Linked DNA regions of Homo sapiens: region 1 is linked to region 2. The links come from fine-mapping of genetic effects on gene expression. A gene starts in region 2. The other region holds a variant in brackets. All regions are shown on one strand. Distances are between the middles of the regions. Region 1 overlaps ACTR2 (actin related protein 2). Region 2 holds the start of ACTR2 (actin related protein 2).

Region 1 (11,610 bases), 45 kb before region 2:
TAAACTGATCAAGGCTTTGAAATAGGACAGGGCTCAATGACCACCACACAGAGCCATCAATGGGTGTTGGAAAAGCAACGGTTGTATAGTCAGGAAGATGCTTGAGCCCCACTCTGGCTCTACAGCTTCTTAGCTCTGAGTCTTTGTTCTTGTTACTTTACCTCTTAAGTCTCAGTCTCCTCATCTACAAAGTGGTGATAATTCCTACTTGCATTAAGTGAGAATGCTGGCAAATGCTTAAGGTACAGTGCCTGGCACTTCACAGACACTCATAAATGGTGACCTTACAGCTTTGTCGTGTCCTCGCTGTTGTTCTCATTGCTTCCTTTTTAGCTCTCTTAATTAACGTAGGGTCTGAAGACCATGGTTGGCTCTGCCCGCAGAAAGTCAAGGAACTTTAAAAGTTCAATAAACACGTTTGAGATGCATTCTTGTTCTCCAAAAGGCAGTAAACCAAGGCAGAAAAATGCACCCCTTTTCCAAAAGGGATTTGAAACAAAGCCCTTTGGAAGCAGATGAGACTGGTAGCATGTTCCTTTGTGAGCAAGATTAGGCACAAGAATGAAGCAAGCCAGCAGTTTTCTCAAGGTATACAGTGGCACCCTGGAGAGTAAGCCCGAAGAGTCTCAAGAGTCCCCAGGCGGAAAAGCCTTTGCCTTCATTCTCTTAGGAAACTCCTAATTAAGTGAAACCTTCTGTACAAACATACCAAGATTTTTTATTAATATCATTTAGTCTGTAGCTTAATTCTTACAAAATTTCCCTGGTTTCTGATTCACATTTTTCTAAGTGCAAAAGACCCCTTCCTAAGAGTGTCACCTCAATTTCTGGAAGTGGAGCCAGGTATCTGCATTGTCACTAGCTCAAGAGAGTCTCAGGCACCCCAAAGTTTGAGAATCACTGGCCCGAGTGTTGCTAGAAATGCTCGGAGAAGGGGCGAAGGTGGGAAAAAATGGAGCACCTACGGAGACTCGGAATTCACAGTCTAAATGGAAATCGTTTACACTGATATTGTCACAAATCCAAGCTATCTGGGGTGAATGGTTTCCTGATTTTTTCTCCATAAATCAATGTGGATATTCTTGGCAAGCTCTGCTCCTCTGCAGGGTGGGCAGCTGTGAGTCAAGCTGCCTCCTCTTCTCTTGACCTTGTCTTCCTGCTTTTTGCAGATGCAATTCTTTCCCTGTCTGCCTCACAGCTAATTATTTCAGCAGACAAGCTCAGAGCCTGAAGAAAACAGGGTGTATTCTTGAAAGTAGTAACTGTACTGAAATTTAGTGGGAAAAGTTTCTCCTTTAGCCCTATCTTCTGAATAAAATCAGCTAGTGGTGTGAGCTGCCATTTGGTTTAGGTTGACAGTTAGCAAATCATGCCTTCTGAGTTTAAGGTACTCTTTAGTATTCTATTTTATCCTAACAGTTCAGGGAACTTGGGAGCAGCAAAGGTTTTTGCGATCTGGGCCAAAGTCACAAGTTTTCTAGTTTCAATGGTGGGGATGGGGGTGGAAGAACCATAAATCCAATCCTCTTTAGACTCTTAAAACATGGAATTTCATTACATAAATCATTCTCTTCACGTATTTGTTCAAAAGTGCAACAAAACAAAGCTTTCATTTAGGATATTCAAGGAAGCCTGTCTTACTGTTATTAAAGCACCTGAGGGAGGATTTGTGTTGGCTCACACCACAAATCTTAGCTTCTTTTGAATGGTATGAACAGAAAAAAAATGTTTAAGGCATAAAAGAGTTGCTATGAAATGGAAATGATGAAGATCATTTTCATGCAACACTAAGACTGGTCGGATTAACCAAAAGAAATCAACATAAAGTTGTCATACCATTTAAAAAATAGTAGCTTAAAGTCAGAAGATAGTTTTCCTCACACCACCTATACCTTGTGTTTCAAAAACACAAATGGTGAACACTGGCACTCCCCAAATCCACATTATGAACTGCATTCTGTATTAGGGGACCATGTCAGTTTTGATATCATAAGAAACATAATTATAGCAGTCATTAATGTGTGGACTGTTGGTCACCATAAACAATTCAATACTTCCACTTTTGAACAAGTTGCATCCAAAAGTTCATTTGTCAGTTGCATAGAACTTGAAATACATACATGCTCTCTAAAAGTAAAGCTACATCTGGTAGGTTGGTTTCTTGGCCTGATTATAAATCACTTTCATGTATCAAGCAGCTAAACTTGTAGCATTAGCTGTACTAGCTTGAGTTCAGGAAGCTGGAACACTGCAAGTCGGAAGCGAGGAGAAAGGAATGTTGAAATGAGCAGTTTGCTTTGGTTATTTTACCACTTCCAGCACTCAACTCTCATCTACCAAGGTGAGCTTGCCCTAAAAAGTGAGCTTGCTCTAAAAACTGAATTTCCTCAGGAACCTACCAATTTTCTCCAATGCACTCCTTAGGCCAAAGTTACAGACCTTCCTTTCACTTACATCACAAAGAGCTGCTAATCTCCCCTAGGCGTCAGTGTGAGTCTCTGGATTTCCTTTTAATACAAATGGATGTGTAAATGACTGATGGTGCTTTAACCATCCCAGAACTGGCCTTTTTAATGAAAAGGTGTTTATCATCCATTTGAACTGAAGATCCATTTGGGGGAGGTGGAGCAGAGGTCAGCACACTGGCAAAAGATGGTCTCTAAGTGGTTCCGGCTTCCCAGGGCTGCTTCCTGTGTCACTTCTGAACCCATCTGCTAAAAGCCCTAGTTTTCCCCAGGAAGAGGAGGAAAGAAGGGCATTGCAGGTGTGGGCCCAGGAGAGTGGTTCATACTTTGAAGCCTGACTGTCCTCTTAGCCCCTAAAACAGGAGTATGAGAGTTGTGGGGGAAGAGTTGGAAAACAAGCAAACCCTCAGGCTCCATTCGGTGGTCCAGAGTGGGGCTCAAGGAAGCCTGCTTTTTTTTTTTTTTTTTTTTTTTTAAGATGGAGTCTCGCTCTGTCACCCAGGCTGGAGTGCAGTGGCTGATCCCAGCTCACTGTAACCTCCACCTCCTGGGTTCAAGCCATTCTCCTGCCTCAGCCTCCTGAGTAGGAATAGTTGGAATTACAGGCGACCGCCACCATGCCCGGTTTGTACTTTTAGTAGAGACAGGGTTTTGTCGTGTTGATCAGGCTGGTCTCGAACTCCTGACCTCAGGTGATCCCCCACTGCCTTGGCCTCCCAAAGTGCTGGGATTACAGGCGTGAGCCACCGCGCCCCGCCTAAGAGCCTGCATTTTTAACAAAAGGAACATGTGATTCTGACCCCATACTGAAAAAGACATTTGAAGGACAAGTAATTTGTTTTAAAAATACAGATAATCATACTTTAGCTACATCACTTCCTGTGGGATGTTTTCATTTTAGAGACTCCTTTAGAATTCCAAGTTGTGTAAGCAGGGAACTTAGAGGTTGAATATTATCTGCTTGAATTCCACCTAAACTACTAAGTAAAAGCAAAACAAAGAGGACAGCCTCCTTAATTGATTCTTTGAATCAAGGTCCTTTAAATTGTCACCATAGTTTAGGTTCCACTCCTTCCTAATAGCTCTTAAATAAAAATTAATTAATGCCAGAAGCTTTCAAATGTAGATCTAAGTTAGCAGGGAAAAAAAAAACACATCTGGAGGTAAATTGTAGGTTTCCAATAAAGGGGTCAAATGTGTATTATCAATTTAACAACTGAGCCTCATTTAGGCCCAAATTTCTTACTCTTCAAACACTAAGTTGTCACAAAATATAAAAATATAAGAATATATACATGTAAACATAAGAAAATATGAAAATATAAGAATTAACAACTCAGGAAACCCTTAGATTTTTATATATTATTATTATTGAGATGGAGTCTCGCTCTGTTGCCCAGGCTGGAGTGCAGTGGCATGATGTTGGCTCACTGCAGCCTCTGTCTCCTGGGTTTAAGCAATTCTCCTGCCTCAGCCTCCTGAGTAGCTGGGATTACAGGTATGCGCCACCACACCTAATTTTTTGTATTTTTAGTGGAGACAGGTTTTGCTATGTTGGCCAGGCTGGTCTCAAACTCCTGACCTCAAGTGATCCGCCTGCCTCGACCTCCCAAATTGTTGGGATTACACAATGCCCAGCAAGATTTGGTTTTCTAAAGTAAAATAGATCGCTTAATTTTCTTGTGCACAGACACCTCGAAAAAAATCTCAACCCCTACAGAACATCAAGGCACTCACATAAACATACTCATTTAAAATGATCCAATTAATATTGTGGCAGACTTTTAGAATTTCCCTAATTTCTTAAAACCTCCTTTGATATTAATGCATTTGCATTCACATTTTTATGATTACATTTTCTGTTTTTTGAGATGGAGTTTCACTCTTGTTGCCCAGGCTGCAGTGCAATGGCACAATTTCGGCTCACCACAACCTCTGCCTCCCGGGTTCAAGCGATTCTCCTGCCTCAGCTTCCCAAGTAGCTGGGATTACGGACTTGTGCCACCACACCTGGCTAATCTTGTATTTTTTAATAGAGACGGGGTTTCTGCATGTCGGTCAGGCTGGTCTCGAACTCCGACCTCAGGTTACTGGCCCCCCTCAGCCTCCCAAAGTGGTGAGATTACAGGCCTGAGCCACCGTGCCCGGTCGTAATTACACTTTTATGCACAAAAAGTATAATTTTAAAAATCCTTATCCTTGAGAGTTGAGGCCCTTTTTCAAACCCATATTTAAGGAAGAACAAATATTTTACTCACTGGAGTTTTCTTTTTACCGATTTTTTAAAGCATTCATCAGGCAAAAGCTCCACTTGCTGTGAATGGCAAAGGGTACAGTTCTTAAAGGCTACCCTGGGCATAAGAATCACTCTGTAATACCTTTGTGATTGCTTTCTGCACTTGCCAAACCCAAACCTTTCAACTGGTCCATGAAAATCTACTCAACATTCTCTAATTCTTCTATTCCTACGTCAAATGTTTCATGGAAAATTATATGCCAAGTCTTTTCCAGTCTTTCCTTTTTTCCTCTGGTGGGTGGGAGGAGTTGAGGGGGTAGATATGAAAGAGACAGGAACTCCATTCTGCCAAAAGGAAGAGATAAATCATTTGAATTCCCCCTACTCAGATATTTTACATCTGCAGATAACGCAAACTGAGACACTTATAATAGGCAACAAGACTTTTTGTCACTGCCAGTCTAGATAATTTAAACAAAAGTAACTATGGTTCAATAGCTTCTTTCTTCCTAATTTCAGATGTTAAACAATACAAAGAAAGATGCTTTAGAATGTTTTTAAAATGTTATATTAATGTGAACATCACTTGAAATTTTTGTAATAGCTGCCTATTTTCACCTCCTCTAAATCAAGTTTATTTCTATTCTATGACTAAAAGTTACTTTCAATATAATGGTTAAAGTCACTAATTTTAGCCTTTTAGTTATTCACACATGCAAACATGCTTTCCCAGGTACGTCCCCTTACCTCCTCCACTTACCTCTGATGTAGCATTTTTCAATCTTCAAAGAGGTCAGAGATTTTTGAGCCAGAGGAAAAAAGTATCCCAGTATTGTGTGTAGTTGGCCAATTAGTCCAAGGTTAGAGAGCATGTTAAATATTGAGCTTAGCCGGCCGCGGTGGCTCACGCCTGTAATCCTAGCACTTTGGGAGGCTGAGGCGGGTGGATCATCTGAGGTCGGGAGTTCGAGACCAGCCTGACCAACATGGAGAAACCCTCTCTACTAAAAATACAAAATTAGCCGGGCGTGGTGGCGCATGCCTGTAATCCCAGTTACTTGGGAGGCTGAGGCAGGAGAATCGCTTGAACCCGGGAGGTGGAGGCTGCGGTGAGCCAAGATCGCTCCATTGCACTCCAGCTGGGCAACAAGAGTGAAACTCCGTCTCAAAAGAAAGAAAAAATCGAGTTTAGATTAATCCTCGAGTTTCTGGTTCACTTTAGTTGGCTACCCTCTTTGATGGTTCTAAAATTAATACAGTTAATAAACTCACTCAATTGTATAATGGTCAAAGTTTGTGGGTGGAGGAAAAAAATGAAGTGCACTGAGAGACATTCATTCCATCAAAGGCACTATGCAGTGCCTGGTATTTTCTTCCTCCATTACATATGGAGATAGCTGTTATCATATTCTTCTTCCGCAACTCAGAAGAAACTAGATAAAACACCAGAGACAACCCTTACGTTCGCTGTCTGGGACTCCGGCCCTGAAGCGGGCAATGAGGTTTGCACATACAAGTCCACGAAGAAGGAAAGGCAAAAATACTCTCTCTACTCTCCAGCCCTCATCCTCAAGGCTAGTATAAAACAAGAAAAGGTCAGTTAAATGTATTTTCATCCTTCTTTTATTTGTTAAAAATAATATGCCTAAAAGTCTGCAGATGAGCTAATATGTCCTTGAAAGGGGGCATGTTACATACAGGTCTCTTTAGCATTTCTAATTCTGTGAAAGCCACCTTAAATCTTTTGGGAGACAAAACAGTTTGTTGGAAGAAAACAGCCTCTGATGTAGCTATAAATCGCTATTCTATTTTCTTATGTATTTATAAAATCATACCAGAAATAATGAGTTGTTTTGTCAATAATAGAACACTGACATGAACTTGACCTAACAACTAGCATAAACTGTCAATTCATCTTGCATTAACAAGAAAATGAAACAAGAAATAACTATTAGAAAGAAATGACAAAATTCAAATTGACTTTGAAAAAATCTGATTTTATTTTCTCAATCAAAATGAAGTATTTCATGTTAATTTAGACTGTTTAGCTTTCCACTGATATCTCAAGATACTTTCCAGATATTAACAGTACTCAGAACTGTGTAAAAGTTAACCACCAAAACCATGTTTTAAAGAAAAAAGTTTAAATGTAAGACTAATGTCTTGGGGACTTTACTAAATGTATTTCTAAAAAAACCCTTCTCAAATGTAGAAGTATTGGCAATTCTAATTTAAAAATTTTAAATTTTTAATTATTGGAAATTTAAGTAGCAATAGTTTCAAGAGCTAAGAATCAGATTGCTTTTTAAAACAGAATTTTTTTTTTTTCCTGAGGGACTCATACTTGACAACTCCAGTTAAACATAATACTCCACCCAAATCCCAAATTTAAATGCATTATGTCACCCTGGAATAGTAAAATTATAAAATGGTATTTCTAAATTATAATATATATACATAATGCACCATTTTAACTGTCACATTTACCAGCAGAATTATGAAATCAAAAACAAATTCTACATTCAAGGGACAAACGATAAATGCTCTTTCATTGTTTTAAGAGTCCATTCCATTCTTTGTTGTTTTCTACTCCCATATTTTAAAATTATGACCAAAGGAGCCTGAAGGCCAAGTCAATCCCATTTCCCTGAACCCAACTGCCAGTAGGTACGGGCCCTACATACGCGTCCTTTAACAAGCCCCGTTCTCAAAAGGCTGGGGGTATTTAT[A/G]TAAGAACTTATTCCAAAGTGACTCTAAGATCCATGTTCCCAAGATCTAGTACGGGCTATTCAGGGTTCTGAGGCATGTCCAGCATGCAGGCAAACTTATCTGTTCAAATTGAGGTAAAACAGACAAAAAACACTTAATATTAACAGAAGCTACATAATTAAAACTAACCTTCTGCTGCTTATTTAAGCTAATGATGTATTCTTACCAAACAGAGACCCTCAAGTCAATCATTTCTTTTGATTTTAGTTACCACCCCCAAATTAAGCCTCTTCTTTCAAAGCTATTATTAGTTAAAAAAAAGTTTTAAAATGAAGAAAAATATTTTTTCCAGAACTTGTATTTTGTAATTAGTGTGATGCAATTTCTTTTTATTTTTCAAACTTAGAAATAACTCATGTATGGTACTATTTGGTATTTTTTTCAGATACCAAGGAATACCGACAGGATTCATAAATAGGATTTTCTGACACTGGCAGGAAAGTCTGCTAACGTTTACAAAATACCAAAGACTCTTCTTTCAAGCTTCAAAGATGGCTGAGAATTAACAGTTATGATTAGTTTTTCAGTACAAATAAAAAAATTAAATCTTGATTTTTTTGGCCAACATTTTAAACAGTCAAATTTTACTGTATTTCCAGGTTTCAAATCAAAACAAACAAAACAACTAATGAAAATTACCCAATTGGCAACAAGTCCTGTATTCCAATGTTATTTTTAAACCACCAATTATAACCTACTGCCAGTAATTATTTGTAAGTACCTGCTTGTTTTATTAAGCACTGGTCAGTTATATAAAAGAATAATTTGCAAGAATGATACTTGGCAATGGGTTACCTTAATGCTTCTGGAATAAACAGAAGCATTAACAAAACACCAGATCTTAAGCTCTTTTAAATCTGTAATTCGAATTACCCAAAGGATTTTTAAATGTTACTTTTCCATTGAAGGACTGTAGGGAGTCTAATCCCAGCTAACATGGTTGATTTTAAAAAACAAATAAATCCCTAAGCCACATAGTAATGGAATACTACACTTGCTTTTTATATCATATGGAAACAGCTCCAGGCAGAGCACAAGTAGAAGAAAACCTGCCAAATCAAAGTACTGTAAATAAAGTTCCTCTACGTACTCCAGTTGACAAAACCTCAAAAATAAAAATCAGAAGACCACCCATTGTTACCCTCCCCCCCGCAACAAAACCCACCCAAAACACTTTAGTTCTGAACCTAACATTTCCCTAAGAAGTTCACAGGAGAAGCTTTAAGGTACTTAAAGCTGCAGCAGTACAGTTGAAAGCGCCACATTACAGAGGAAATGCCCTAAAGGGTTCAGCAGCTGCCCACCCATCCCGAACCACCCCCCATCCCAGTAATATGTAAAAGCTCCTGTTAAAGTTTTTTTTGTTTTATGCTAATAAAGGCATACCACCTAGTGTGCTAAAGACTACGACTAGCAGCATTAGAGCAGTAAAGTGAAAATAGGAAGCCTATAGGAATGATCTAAATGCCTACTTAGAAGAAACAAAGCAGCAGACAGAATCCTTAGCCCTCTAGTCTATGTAGGGAAGCAGTTGAATTAAACTCAGATTTACCCACATTAACAAAAATTTAACAAAGCTTCCCCAAGACACCAGAATAAAACTTGACCTTTCCAGTCAAAGGGCAGAGAGAGGCCTCTTCCATGTCCTGGAGTTGAATGAGTTCAAAGATTGGCAATAAAGGAAAAAAGAAAGCATTACGGGTATGACGGGAACAAGCTTTGGAGTTTATCGAACAGTCACACCAAGTTTCTCTAGCACACGGACACCCTTTTCTTGGTACTCTTGTCGGGTCATCCAAAAGTTGTCTTTGTCTTTCATGATATCCGCTAGAACTGCACCACCCAGGAATACCATGTGCTTTCTGCGGGGTGGGTCTTCAATGCGGATCTTAAATTTCTAAAGGAGAAAGAAAGGATAATGAAATGGTACATGTGCACAGTGCTTTCTGCTTTATGAAAATGGCTTTTTAAATATATGCTCTCCCTCAAACTTGCAACAGTCCTGTAATATAAGTAGAACGTAATATTTGGTACCTGAGGTACAGAAACATTTAGTAATTTGCCCAAAGCTCATGTTTAGGAGACCACACATCCATCCCAGCATGCTTGGAACAGTCCTGATTTACACGTGGTGTCCCATCATTATTAATACCACCCTTTCCATTCTTGAGTGTCCTAATTTGATCAGTAAATTACATGACTTAACACCCTACTGAGAGACCAAACATCCAAGACATAATTAGAGCAAATTTCCCATCCAATGGCAGATGACCACTTGGGAAAGTCACTTTGCTGTCAAGCAAAGTCTGGATAAGAGGACTTGCATGGCTGGGTGTGGTGGCTCAAGTGTAATCCCAGCACTTTGGGAGGCCAAGGCGGGCGGATCACGAGGTCAGGAGATCGAGACCATCCTGGCTAACACAGTGAAACCCCGTCTCTACTAAAAATACAAAAAAATTAGCCGGGCATGGTAGTGGGTGCCTGTAGTCCCAGCTACTCGGGAGGCTGAGGCAGGAGAATGACGTAAACCTGGGAGGTGGAGCTTGCAGTGAGCCCAGAGACTCAATCTCAAAAAAAAAAAAAAAAAAAAAAAAAAAAGAGGACTTGCATGACTTCTTCAAGGTCTCATACTGTTATGATTCTAGTCCAGGGCAATAGAGTAAAACTGAAGTTCTTTTCTTTTAAGCAAAGCTTACTTTCTATTGTCTCAAAATCAAATGAAATGTTCTTAAAATAAACAAGGCCAAATATGGTCAAAACAAATCATCAGGATGTTATGAGAAAATGAACACAGTAACCAAAATTAAAGGCAATTGGGAAAAGTTTTATACTCTGTAGCTACTATTAAGTGTCTAGGAAGGACACATCCTTATCTTTATGGTTGGTCAACACCTGAAAGAGAAACCTTAAAATGACATAGCAAGTTTTTCATTTACAGTATCACGATCTGCAAAAAAGACCCAATGTAACTATGTCATTCTAAATCATTTGTATATTTATGTCACATAAATGAACTGTAAGGGTTCTAACAATCCAAGATAAAGAAAAACATCAGTTTATTTACCAATTCTGAGACTGTTTTAATTGTTCCTTTTACTTTCTTGCTCTTACATAGGGGTCAGCAAACTTTTTTTGTGAAGGGCCAGATACTTGAGGCTTTGTAGGCGTGACAAGTACCCAACCCCACATGTAGCTAGAAGGTGCCCACAGACAATATGTGACAACAGGTAACATTATGTAAACAAATGGGCTTGGCTGTGTTCCAATAAAACTTAAAAAAAACAAACAAACCAGTTTTGGCATAAGGGCTATAGATGACCACCTCTACTCTAAGGGAAACTTAGCTAGCCCCTGAAGACACTGCTTCTGTAAATACCTCAACTGCTTTACTGTTTCTCTCTCACACACTACCTTAACCCTGGAGGTTTGGTAATATGAGTTATTGCTCTTCATTGCTGCTTCTATCTCGCTCATCCCTAAAACTCCATAGCCCCACTGAAACTCATTCTATCAGATCATTCCATCTACCACTCCCTCCTTGCTGAACTCATCTACAGATTCCTACAGACAAATTGCACCTGCTGTCAAGCAGCTGAACAAGATAGGAAAGAAACAAAACATCTTGCTATAATGTATCACTAACCTCAACTGAGCCCTTCCTGCTGCATGGCAATCCTATTACATTTCTCTATTCTCGCTTCCATTCTCCAAAACAACCATTTCAACCTCCTCCTCTATTCTAAAACTCTACCATCCCTCCCCTCCTCTCAGTGCCTCCTAACTGGTCTCTCTATGCCCACCTTTGTTCCCTCTTCCCCCAAGAGTCTATTCACCACACCAGACTTAATGATCCTTTAAAAATATACATCAGATCCTATCATTTCTCTGCTTAAACCGCCCCCACACCCAAGACTTTCCATTTCACCAGGAGTCAAGCCAAACCCTTTACCATGGCTGAACAAGACCTGCCCTCCTGCTACCCTTCTGACCTCATATCCCACCTGCCCCCCTCCCTTGCTCACTCTGCTCCAGCCACACTGGCACACTCCCACCAACCTGGGGCTTTTGCATTTTTCCTGCCTGGAAGATTCTTCCCCCAGACAGTCACAAGGCTCACTCCTCTCACGCTCAACTTAGGTC
Region 2 (11,610 bases):
CTCATGGTACTGATGTTCTTTAGTAAGTTAACTGCACAGTGACTGTTCTGATCTTAGGCCACCAAAATATTTATTCTACTTATACCAAAGCATTTTGCAAGATGAAACCAAATTTGGTTTTGGTTTGTTTCTGTTTCAAACACTCCTAAATTCAACATATAAAGTAGCATAAGCCCGATAAAGCAGGCCACAATCAACTACAAATGTCAATTACATAAATGCAAATGCAATTATTCTAGCACTATAAGCTTCTCTGTACGACTGGACCTTATTAAGCACTGTGCCAGCAACATAGCACGCACTGGAGAAACCTTCATTTTGTTGGTGATCTAACTCAATGCTGATGAAATCACCCTAGTCTGGTAACAAGACACGTAACACCAGGGGCCTGGGCCTAGCTCGTGAAGAGGACCTAAACCTAGAGTTTCACAGACCTCCAGATTTTCACCTATCTGGGCCACTTTAAGTGGCTTGATTTCAGAAGGAGGTTTGAATGGTTAAAATCCACATAAATTATTGGATCAAATGAGTTTTCCTCCTCTGGGCAACCCTACTGAGACACTGGTCAAGCTGGGAGATAGAAAATCAAGCGGGACCAACATTGGTCATGTGATCGTAAGTACAAACTTGTTTCCAGGCAAACTTGTCCAACCCATGGCCCACGGGCTGCATGAGGCCCAACACAAATTCACAAACTTTCTTAAAACATTATGAAATTTTTTTGGTGATTTTTTTAGTTCATCAGCTATTGTTAGTGTATTTCATGTGTGGCCCAAGACAATTCCTCTTCCAATGTGGCCCAGGGAAGCCAAAAGACTGGACACTCCTGTCCTAGAATATTTAATTTGGGTCTGCCAGAGAGGTTAAAAGAATCGTAACTTTTTAAAAAGCCTGTAATTTTATTTTTATTTTTACTAGATATGGGGTCTTGTTATACTAACCCAGGCTAGTCTCAAACTCTTGGCCTCAAGAAATCCTCTCACCTCGGCCTCCCAAAATGCTGGAAATACAGGCATGAGGAACCACACCCAGCCAGCCTACAATTTTAAAACCTAAGGCATGTAAGGAGCAAATGAAAACACCTTAGGATAACAACTATTTCCATAAATTTGCAAAATTACATCTGAATATCTTCTTTAATATTTAATTATAAAGGAATCATTATAACTTCAGGTATCTAAATAAAATCAAGATGATTATTCATGTCTACAAATGGTAAGAAACAGAATACACAATCTAAGCGGTTCCTAGTCCTCTACATACTCAGAACTATTACAGCATTCCTGTTATATGATTCATGTATTTTAACAGCACTGTTTCTTCATTTGAAACCAATCATGTCCATAGAAAATCTGCATAAAATTTTAAAATAACTAGAAGCATAAGAACAGATAAATTTTATTTGAATTAATTACACTCACTTTTTTCATTTATGACAGGAATTGATCACTTGTCTTAAGGAAAAGAATCTTAAAAACATGGATTAGACACAAGACTAATCAATAACATACTACAATCAGCTTTTTTTTTTTTTTGTGACAGTCTCACTCTGTCGCCCAGGCTGGAGTGCAGTGGCGTGATCTTGGCTCACTGCAACCTCTGCCTCCCAGGTACAAGTAATTCTCCTGCCTCAGCCTCCCAAGTAGCTGGGATTTCAGGCATCAGAAACCACACCCGGCTAATTTTTGTATTTTTAGTAGACACGGGGTTTCACCATGATGGCCATGCTGGTCTCAAACTCCTGACCTCAAGTGAACCTCCTACCTCGGCCTCCCAAAGTGCTGGGATTACAGGCATGAGCCACAACGCCCAGCCTAAAATCAGCCTTCTAATGTTAGCTAACTAATGGAATAGTAACATAACATTAGCTTCTGACAGCAGGGTGCAGTGGCTCAAGCCTGTAATCCTAGCACTTTAGGAGGCCGCAGTGGGCAGATCTTTTAACCCCAGGAGTTCAAGACCAGCCTGGGTAACATAGGGAGACCCAGTCTCTACAAAAATAAAAAAATTAACTGGGTGTGGTGGCACAAGCCTGTAGTCCCAGCTACTCGGGAGGCTGAAGCAGGAGAACCGCTTGAGCCCAGGAGGCAGAGGTTGCAGAGAGCCGAGATCACGCCATCGCTCTCCAGCCTGGGCAACAGAGCTAGATCCTGTGTCCAAAAAAAAAAAAAAAAAAAAAAAAATCAGCTTCGGTTAACATTCCCATTCTAATTTAATATTTAAAAACTCATATATACTACAAATACAGGGCTCATTACCTTGAACCCCTAAAAGAATTCATTAAAATATAACTGGCTTGACTTTCTAAAAAGAGTATCTGACACAATCACAAAACAAAAAATTTTAAATTCAATTTTTAAAGTTTTTTATTTATTTAGAGGCCAATTTGAAACTATAGTGGAAATCAGGCTAATACTTTTTTAAAAAGCACATTTAACTGAATTTTAGCCGCACATGTAACATGCGTTTATGGTTAATTTAGTTTAAATATAGTTTAATAATACTTGCTTTGTTCAAATAAAGAACATTTTTCCAATAATTCAGAAAGGTCATGAAGTCCTCTCCATCTTCCCTCACTCCCTTATCCTCTGTCTCATAGGTAACCATTATGAACATTTCTTATGTATCCCTCCAAAACTTTCATATGCGGATACAAGTTTGTGGACATACATCTTTAATAAGGAACACACACTTAAACTGAATCATTCTAAAACCTTTTTCAACTTAAAATCTTAGACGTTTCCATAGCAGTGGATCTGCCTTTTTAAAAATATTACATTCTTAAAAACCGTCACATTAATATGTTTTGTTTTTCTTTTTTTTTTTTTTTTTTTTTGAGACGGAGTCTTGCTCTGTCGCCCAGGCTGGAGTGGTGCGATCTCGGCTCACTGCAACCTCCGCCTACCGGGTTCAAGCGATTCTCCTGCCTCAGCCTACCGAGTAGCTGGGATTACAGACGCCCACCACCATGCCCGGCTAATTTTTGTATTTTTAGTAGAGACGGGGTTTCACTATGTTGGCCAGCCTGGTCTCAAACTCCTGACTTCAGGTGATCCGCCCGCCTAGACCTCCCAAAGTGCTGGGATTACAGGCATGAGCCACCGCGCCTGGCCTCAATGTACGTTAACACTCTTTTTACTCTAGTCCATTTTTAACACAGTTCAGATGAAGCTACCATAATTATTGCTTGTAAAATTGTGTAACAAATCTAATCAAGGGCAGTATTATGGCAGTAAATACCAGCTCTTTTCCCCCTCAACAATTCAGATTCCAAAGTGTTTTGTTCAAGTAAAATGAACTTTAATTCATACATCATATTTATGGGAGGGAGGGGAGAAAACTCACAAAATGTTGCAACATCAAAATGGTTAGAAATCACTATAGAAGTCATCCAGAATAAATAATATTTCCATCTTCTAATTTGCTGACTTTGCTACCCAAAATACATTTTTTTTTAATCTGGCAAGAGGGAGGTCTGAATGAAACAATTTTTTTTTTTTATAATTGAGACGGAGTTTCACTCTTGTCGCCCAGGCTGGAGTGCAGTGGCGCAATCTCGGCTCACTGCAACCTCCGCTTCCTGGCTTCAAGGGATTCTCCTGCCTCAGCCTCCCAAGTAGCTGGGATTACAGGCAAGCACCACCACGGCCGGCTAATTTTTGTATTTTTAGTAGAGACCGGGGTTTCACCACGTTGGCTGGGCTGGTCTCGAACTCCTAACCTCTGGTGATCTGCCCGCCTGGGCCTCCCAAAGTGCTGGGATTACAGAAACAATTTTCAAATAGTTTCTAAATCAGTGCTTTAGTCAGATTTTACAATTTTTGAATCTTAAAGGCTAACATTACCTGTATACTGAAACGAAGGGAAAAAAGGGGGCTGGGGGTGGGATAATCAACACTAATTAACTTCCCCTAAGGCTAGTGGAATTAACACTTGAGTCTTGCGGGATCCTAGGTCACCCAAAACCACTCAATGGAACATGCTGGTCTCCGTGGGCCTACTCCTGGGCCAAATACTAGTATGTAAAACAAAAAGTGAACGATGCGCTGCCGATCTGGACCCCTTCCCTCGAAAAAACTAATAAAAAGCCCAACAAACACAGCGAAAGGGCTGAGGTCCACACTCCATGACAGCACTTCCCTTTTTTTTTTTTTTTTTTTAAGTAAACCCGCTTCCTGCTTCTCGTTTGGTGTATCTTCAACTATACAGGAAGAGGAAGGCCTCTAGGTCTTTCTCCTTTTTACAAACCGGTGGCCCTGGGGAAAAGAGCCCTTCTCGGAACACACAAACCGAGCCTTTTACGCTTCCGTCCGCTTTAGCCCAATTGCCCCCGCATTAGCGCGGAGCAGGTCCCTGCCGGGCGGTCAGTAGGCTCCATGTCCAGTGCCGGTCTCGCCCGCCGCCCCCACCCGGAAGGGTGAGGGGGTGGCAGGCTAAATGGGTGGCAGGCTCAAGGGAGACCAGGGAACGGCCGGCTCGCTCCCACGCCCGCGGAGGTGGGAGGCACCGCCCCGCGCCCCTTCGCCCCGAGGGCCCGGAGGTGCAGCCCTGGGGGCCGAGGGCCCGTGCGCCAGCTGCTCGTCCCCGCCGGCGTCTGTGGCCGCCAAGGCCTCCTCGCGCGGCCCTTACCCCGGTGCCGTTGTCGCACACCACCACCTTCCTGCCCTGGCTGTCCATCGTCCGCCCAGGGAAGAGCCGCTGCAGCCGCACAACCTACAGCCACCGCCGCCCGGCCGTTTTCTCTTCTTCCTCTTGCGTCTTCCCGGCCCCTCCTTCGGCCCAACTTTTTTCCCCCGACCGGAAGCCGCCGCCGGGCTCCGCCCGTCATTTAGCTGAATGCCTGCACGAAAAGGGTGGGACGGGCAGGCAGCGCGACTGGCAGCGGTGAGCTCCAATAAAAGATGGAGGAGCGTCGAGGCCCCTCCCGCAGCTCCGCTTCCGGCTCGGCTGTCACGGTCGCTGCCCACCCGGGTTCTTCGCTGCTTCTAGTTCCGGGCGCTTTGCCGGGCGTTAATGGCGGCCAACATCGCCGGTGCTGCGGCTTTCTCCCTAAAGTGTCACAGGAGCTAAGGGCGCTGCTTAACGAACTGCAGAAGACGCAGGCAGGTGAAGGACACCGGTTCTGCTGCGGCAGTGGAATGTGGCGGAGAAGCTGGCGGGTAGGGCGGGGAGCAAGCCTGGAGGTCCTGGCGGACCCCACCATTCGACAGGGCTTGGTGTGTTATTGCTTCTAGGCCTTTTCAGCGGACAGAACTGGGATGGATACACACATGCTTATTTGAAATCATGCGTTTGTTCCATACTCCAATGTCAGCCCACCCCTTCTTTGCCCAAGTTGCTCTATGGTCAAGTGAGCGAGAGCAGGTGCCTGCATTTCCAGCCTCGTGGCTCACCGCCTCCTTCCAGTAGTCCCATGTTGCTTCACACCTCTTAAGTACATGTACTTCTGTGAACCCAGAGCCTTGGCTTTGAAATCAGACAACCCCAGTTTCAAACGTGGCGCTGCCACTCACGAGTTTTGTGATTTTGGCATACCCCTGTCTGCATGGGGATAATAACTTCTATCTCCATAGGTGTGGTGAGGATAAAAGTCTATGCATGGAGGAAATGTTCATTCAGTGGTAGCTATTTCTAATTCTGTTCTTCTGGACCTATGATTCTATCTACGATGCCTCATTTTTTTTCCTTTTTAATCAATTGGCAAACTTGTGCTCTGAGACCCAGCTTGTTACATCTCTGATGACAGCTGATATCCTCAGGATATTCCGTACTTCCTTTCTCCCTATTACTTTACTATGAATATATGAATAACATTGTGCTTATTGCATGCAACAAATATTTATTAGATGAATGACATTAAAATTCACCTTTAAAATGCCATCCTTTATGAGAGGTGAGAAATAGAACTTTTCCTTCGACATGGCTGTACATGTTCAACAACTAGAATAAAACAGTCATCATGAACCCTCAATCCAGTATTCTTTTTATAATATAGCTGCCTGTCAGTTTTCACTGTTCTTTTATTAGACCAGTGATTTTCAAACCTTTTTAAAGGCATACAGTGCTTTATTCAAATCTAATCTTATATGGAACCCTCAACACATAAATATTAAGATAAAAATAAAGCTGCCATTGTTGCAATTAGAAGTTTGAGAGGTTAGAATAGGTAGGAAGTCTCGGAGGAACATTTCTTCGTTTTACCTGCTTTAACAGTCAGAGAAGTACCTCAGCCAGCAGAAAAATTTATTTGTTCATAAATTCCTTGAGTATAGAGTCCGTATCTTATTTTTGTGGCCTCCAATGCTAGTGCTGTGCAGTTTTCTTGAAAGTGCATTTTATTGGTCTCAGCAAATTGAACTCAAGCATTTCTGTGTTCTTTTACTTTTCCTCTTTGTGGAATTAAGGGGATTGCTAATTTGTATTTTTAAAGAAAGAACATTATTCCGGGCGCGGTGGCTCACGCCTGTAATCCCAGCACTTGGGGAGGCCAAGGAGGGCAAATCACCTGAGATCAGGAGTTCAAGACAAGGCTGACCAACATGGCAAAACCCCGTCTCTACTAAAAATACAAAAATTAGCTGGGCGTGTTGGCACGCGCCTGTAATCCCAGCCACTCAGGAAGCTGAGGCAGGAGAATCGCTTGAACCCGGGAAGCAGAGGTTGCAGTGACAGAGATCGTGCCACTGCACTCCAGCCTGGTGAGAGCAAGACTCTGTCTCAAAAAAAAAAAAAAAAAATTGGCAAGTTTGGCCCTAAAATTTATATGAAATGAAAAGGAACCAGAATAAAAGGATTTCGAAACAGAAAAAGATGGAGAACTTCCACTACCTGAATTCAAAACTTATTATAAAGCTACAGTAATGAAGACTGTAATACTGGCATAGAGGCAGATATATCGATCAATGGAATCAAATAGTCCACAAATAAACCTTTACATTATGGTCAGTTGATTTTCAACAATGGTGCTAAAACAATCCATGGGGAAAGGGTAATCTTTTCAATGAATGATGTGGGAGGGAAAAAAAAGAACTTTGATTCTTACCTCACATCACACATAAAAATTGATTTAAGTGGATCATAGACCTAAATATAAAAGCTAAAACTATAAATTTCAGAAGAAAAAGAGGAAAATCTTTTGATATTAAGTTAAGCAAAGTTTGCTTAGATATGACGCTAAAATCGTGATCTATAAAAGAAAAAATTGATAGTTGACATAATAGAAATTTAAAGCTTTTAGTTCATGTATTGAAACAAAAAATCTAGACTGGGACAATGGCTCACATCTGTAATCCCAGCACTTTGGGAGACCAAGGTGGGTGGATCGCTTGAGCTCAGGAGTTCAAGACCAGCCTAGGCCAGATGGTGAAACCCCATCTCTACAAAAAATACAAAAATTAGCTGTGCATATAGTCCCAGCTACTTGGGAGGCAGAGGTGGGAAGATGGTTTGAGCCCAGGAGGCAGAATTTGCAGTGAGCTGAGATTGCGCTACTACGCTACAGCCTGGGTGACAGCCAGACCCTATCTAAAAAAAAAAAAAAAAAAAAAAGAAGAAGAAAACAAAAACAAAAAATCTTGGTCTGTCTTAGGCAACAAGCAATTAAAAAAAAAGTAGAAAATAAAGCAAAAGGGCCGGGCGCAGTGGCTCACGCCTGTAATTCCAGCACTTTGGGAGACTGAGGCGAGTGGATCACCTGAGGTCAGGAGTTTGAGACCAGCCTCGCCAACATGGTGAAACCCCATCTCTACTAAATACAAAAATTAGCTGGGCGTGGTGGCGGGCACCTGCAATCCCAGCTACTTGGGAGGCTGAGGCAGGAGAATTGCTTAAATCCAGGAGGCAAAGGTTGCAGTGAGCCAAAATCATGCCACTGCACTCCAGCCTGGGCAACAGAGCATAACTCCATCTCAAAAAAAAAAAAAAAAAAGAAAAAGAAAAAGAAAAGCCATGAACTAGAAGAAAATATTTGAATAGATATTTTACCAAAGAAGATTTATGAATGGCAAATAAGTACATAAAAAGATATTCATCATCATTAATCATTAGAGAAATGCACATTGAAAGCATAATAAGATAACACTTAATACCCACTAGAATGGCTATAATCAGAAAAATAGAAAACAAGTTTTGGCGGGGCTAGGTGGCTCACACCTGTAATCCCAACACTTTGGGAAGCCAAGGCGAGTGGCTCACTTCAGGTCAGGAGTTTGAGACCAGCCTGACCCAACATGGTGAAACCCCGTCTCTACTAAAAAATACAAAAATTAGCCGGGCGTGGTGGCAGGTGCCTGTAATCCCTGCTACTTGGGAGGCTCAGGCAGGAGAATCGCTTAAACCTGGGAGGCAGAGATTGCAGTGAGCGGAGATCGTGCCACTGCACTCCAGCCTGGGTGACAGCGAGACTCCGTCTCAAAAACAAACAAAACAAAATAAAACAAAAAAAAATGGAAAACAAGTTTGGCAAGAATGTGGAGAAACAAACACTCCTACATTCCTGGTGAGAATGTAAAATGGTACAGGCACTTTGGAAAGCAGTTTGACAGTTTTTTAAAAAATTAAGCATAAATTGCCATATAACCCAGCAATTTCACGCCTAGGTATATACCTAAAAGAAATGAAAACATATGTCCATGGACTCATACCTACATGTCCATTGCAGAATTACTCATAATAGGCAAAAAGTGGAAACTATTCAAATGTCTTATCAGTTTGTGAATGAGTAAACAATATGTAGTACAGCCATACAATAGAATATTTGGTGATAAAAATAAACCAATACATGCTGTAACATGGATGAAAGTAAAAAAACACTATAGCAGATAAAAAGACTGTGATTTCATAGGAAAATCACAAATATAGAAAAAGCAAGATTATAGATACAGAAAGCAGGTTAGTGATTGCTGGGGCTGAAACTGGAAGCCAGGTTTGGCTGCAGATGGGCATGGGACAACTTTACGGATTGATGGAATACTAAAACTAGATTTTGGTAATGGTTACACAACCATAAAAATTTACTAAAAATAAACTGCACACTTGTAATAGGTAAATTTTGAGATGTGTAAATTTCATGTTGTAACTCCAATAAGGCTTTAAAAAATTTAAGTTACCTGCCCAAATGTACCTATCATGTAGCAGAAGCAGGATTAGACACAGGTGTGCCTGTCCTCAAAGCCTGAGCTCTGTTTACCCAGAGTTTTGGAAACTCCAGATCTATCATGAAAACCTAAGTCATTCTTAACCCGAGTCATCCTACTCAGGAATGACTTTTTTATTATAATTTTATTGTTTTTTATTTTATTGTATTTAAAAGAAATAGAGATTGTGGCTGGGCACGGTGGCTCATGCCTGCAATGCCAGCACTTGGGGAGGCCAAGGCAGGTGGATCAGTGGAGGCCAGAAATTCAATACCAGTCTAGCCAACATGGTGAAACCCCATCTCTATTAAAAATACAAAAATTAGCTGATTGGCCTGGGAGGCAGAGGTTGTAGTGAGCTGAAATCACCCCACAGCACTCCAGCCTGGGTGACAGAGTGAGACCCTGTCTCAAAAAAAAAAAAAAAAAAAGGAAAGAAAAAGAAAGAGGGAGAGCAAGAAAGAAAGAGAGAGAGAGAAAGAAAGAAAAGAAAAAAAAAGGAAAGAGGGAGGGGGAGAGAGAGAGAAAGAGAGAGGGAGAGAGAGAGAGAGATTGGGTCTCGCTATGTTAACCAGGTTGGTCCCCAACTCCTGGCCTCAAGTGATCCTCATCTCATTGGGATCCTCCCTCCCAATCCCAACGTGTTAGGATTACAGGTGTAAGCCACTGCACCTGGCCTAGGAAGGACTTTTTGGGAGGGATTCTATCATCTCACTTGGATCTGGGAATACAGGTATGAGCCACCATGCCCAGCCTGAGAACAATACAATTATTCTTTTCTAGCTATTTTGAAATATATGATAAAATATTGTCAACTATAATTTCCCTATTGTATTTTCAAATACTAGAACTTCTATCTAACTGTATTTTTTTGACAATTAACTAATTTCTCTTTGTCTTCGCCCTCCCCAGTTTCCCTTCCCAGACTCTGATAACGACCATTCTATTCTCTATCTCCATGGTATCTACTATTTTACCTCCCATATGTAAGTGAGAATATGTAATATTTGTCTTTCTGTCCCTGGATCATTTCACTTAGCATAATGTCCTCCAGCTCCATCTATGTTGTTGCACATGACAGGATCTCATTCTTCTTTATGGCTGAATAGTACTCGATTGTGTATGTGTACTGCATTTTCTTTATCCATTCATCCATTGATGGACACTTAGGTTGATTCCCTATCTTGGCTATTGTGAATAGTGCCGCAGTAAACATGAGAGTGCAGATATCTCTCCAATATACTGATTCCTTTCTAGGGATGTATACCTCGCAGTGGGGATTGCTGGATCATATGGTAGTTCTACTGATAAACACACTTAAAACAATTTCAATACCTGCCAGGTGCGATGGCTCATGCCTGTAATCCCAGCACTTTGGGAGGCCAAGGCAGGTGGGTCACCTGAGGTCAGGAGTACGAGACCAGCCTGGTCAACATGGTGAAACTCTATCTCTGCTAAAAATACAAAAATTAGCTTGGTGTGGTGGCACGTGCCTGTAATCCTAGCTACTCCAGAGGCTGAGGCAGGAGAATCGCTTGAACCAGGAGACAGATGTTGTAGTGAGCTGAGATGGTGCCACTGCACTCCAGTCTGGGTGACAGAGTGAGACTCTGTCTCCAAAAAAAAAAGAGATAATAAAACAATTACAATGCCTTTATTATAACTAACAAAATTTACAGTAATTTCTTATTGGCTAATAGCCCATATCCAGTTTTTCCTAATTGTCTCAAAAATGTTCTAAACAATGTCCAAAAATTACATTTGTTTGATATGTCTATTTTATTTTATCTTATTTTATTTTATTTTTGAGATAGAGTCTTGCTCTGTCACCCAGGCTGGAGTGCAGTGGCGCTATCTCGGCTCACTACAATCTCCACCTCGCAGGTTCAAGCAATTCTGCTGCGTCAGCCTCCTCAATAGCTGAGAGTACAGGCGCATGCCACCACACTCAGCTAATTTCTGTAGTTTTAGTAGAAATGGGTTTTCACCACATTGGCCAGGCTCTTGACCTCAGGTGATCCACCCGCCTTGGCCTCCCAAAGTGCTGGGATTATAGGCATGAGCCACTGCTCCCAGCCGATATGTCTATTTTAGTTTACAAAATGGTGCGGCCACTTTGGAAAGCAGTCTTGCAGTTCCCCAAAAGGTTTAATATAGAGTTACCATATGACTCAGTAATTTTACTCCTAGGTATACACCCAAGATAAATGAAAAAAGTTTTTTTTAAATCATATTCTAAACAAGATTCACAAATTGCATTTGCTTGATATTTGTATTTTAGTTTATAACACTTTCTTCTCTCTCTCTCTGTCTCTTCCTGAGACAGGGTCTCTCTCTGTTGCTTAGGCAGGAGTGCAGTGGCATGATCATAACTCACTGTAACGTTGAACTAGACTCAAGCAATCCTCCCGCCTCAGCCTCCTGAATACTAGGACTACCGGCATGTACCACCATACCCAGCTAATCTTTAAAAATT

What was found.
Region 1: its variant is fine-mapped to the expression of ACTR2 in whole blood (TOPMed, PIP above 0.99).

What each region holds. Positions count from the first base shown.
Region 1 is chr2:65,266,321-65,277,930 of GRCh38, reverse strand. It overlaps ACTR2 (actin related protein 2), which reads right to left. Exons shown (of 9, transcript NM_005722.4): 9 at 6,678-9,367. The coding sequence ends at 9,197. Among named protein-coding and RNA genes, the nearest start is that of ACTR2, 44 kb to the right of the region's middle. RefSeq lists an enhancer at 2,171-2,838. The variant A/G (reference allele first, on the strand shown) is at 7,431.
Region 2 is chr2:65,220,977-65,232,586 of GRCh38, reverse strand. It overlaps ACTR2 (actin related protein 2), which reads right to left and starts at 4,756. Exons shown (of 9, transcript NM_005722.4): 1 at 4,630-4,756. The coding sequence starts at 4,677. It overlaps LOC124907779 (a long non-coding RNA gene), which reads left to right and starts at 4,988. Exons shown (of 2, transcript XR_007086461.1): 1 at 4,988-5,106. RefSeq lists enhancers at 3,825-3,914, 3,987-4,875, 4,876-5,765 and a silencer at 4,415-4,604.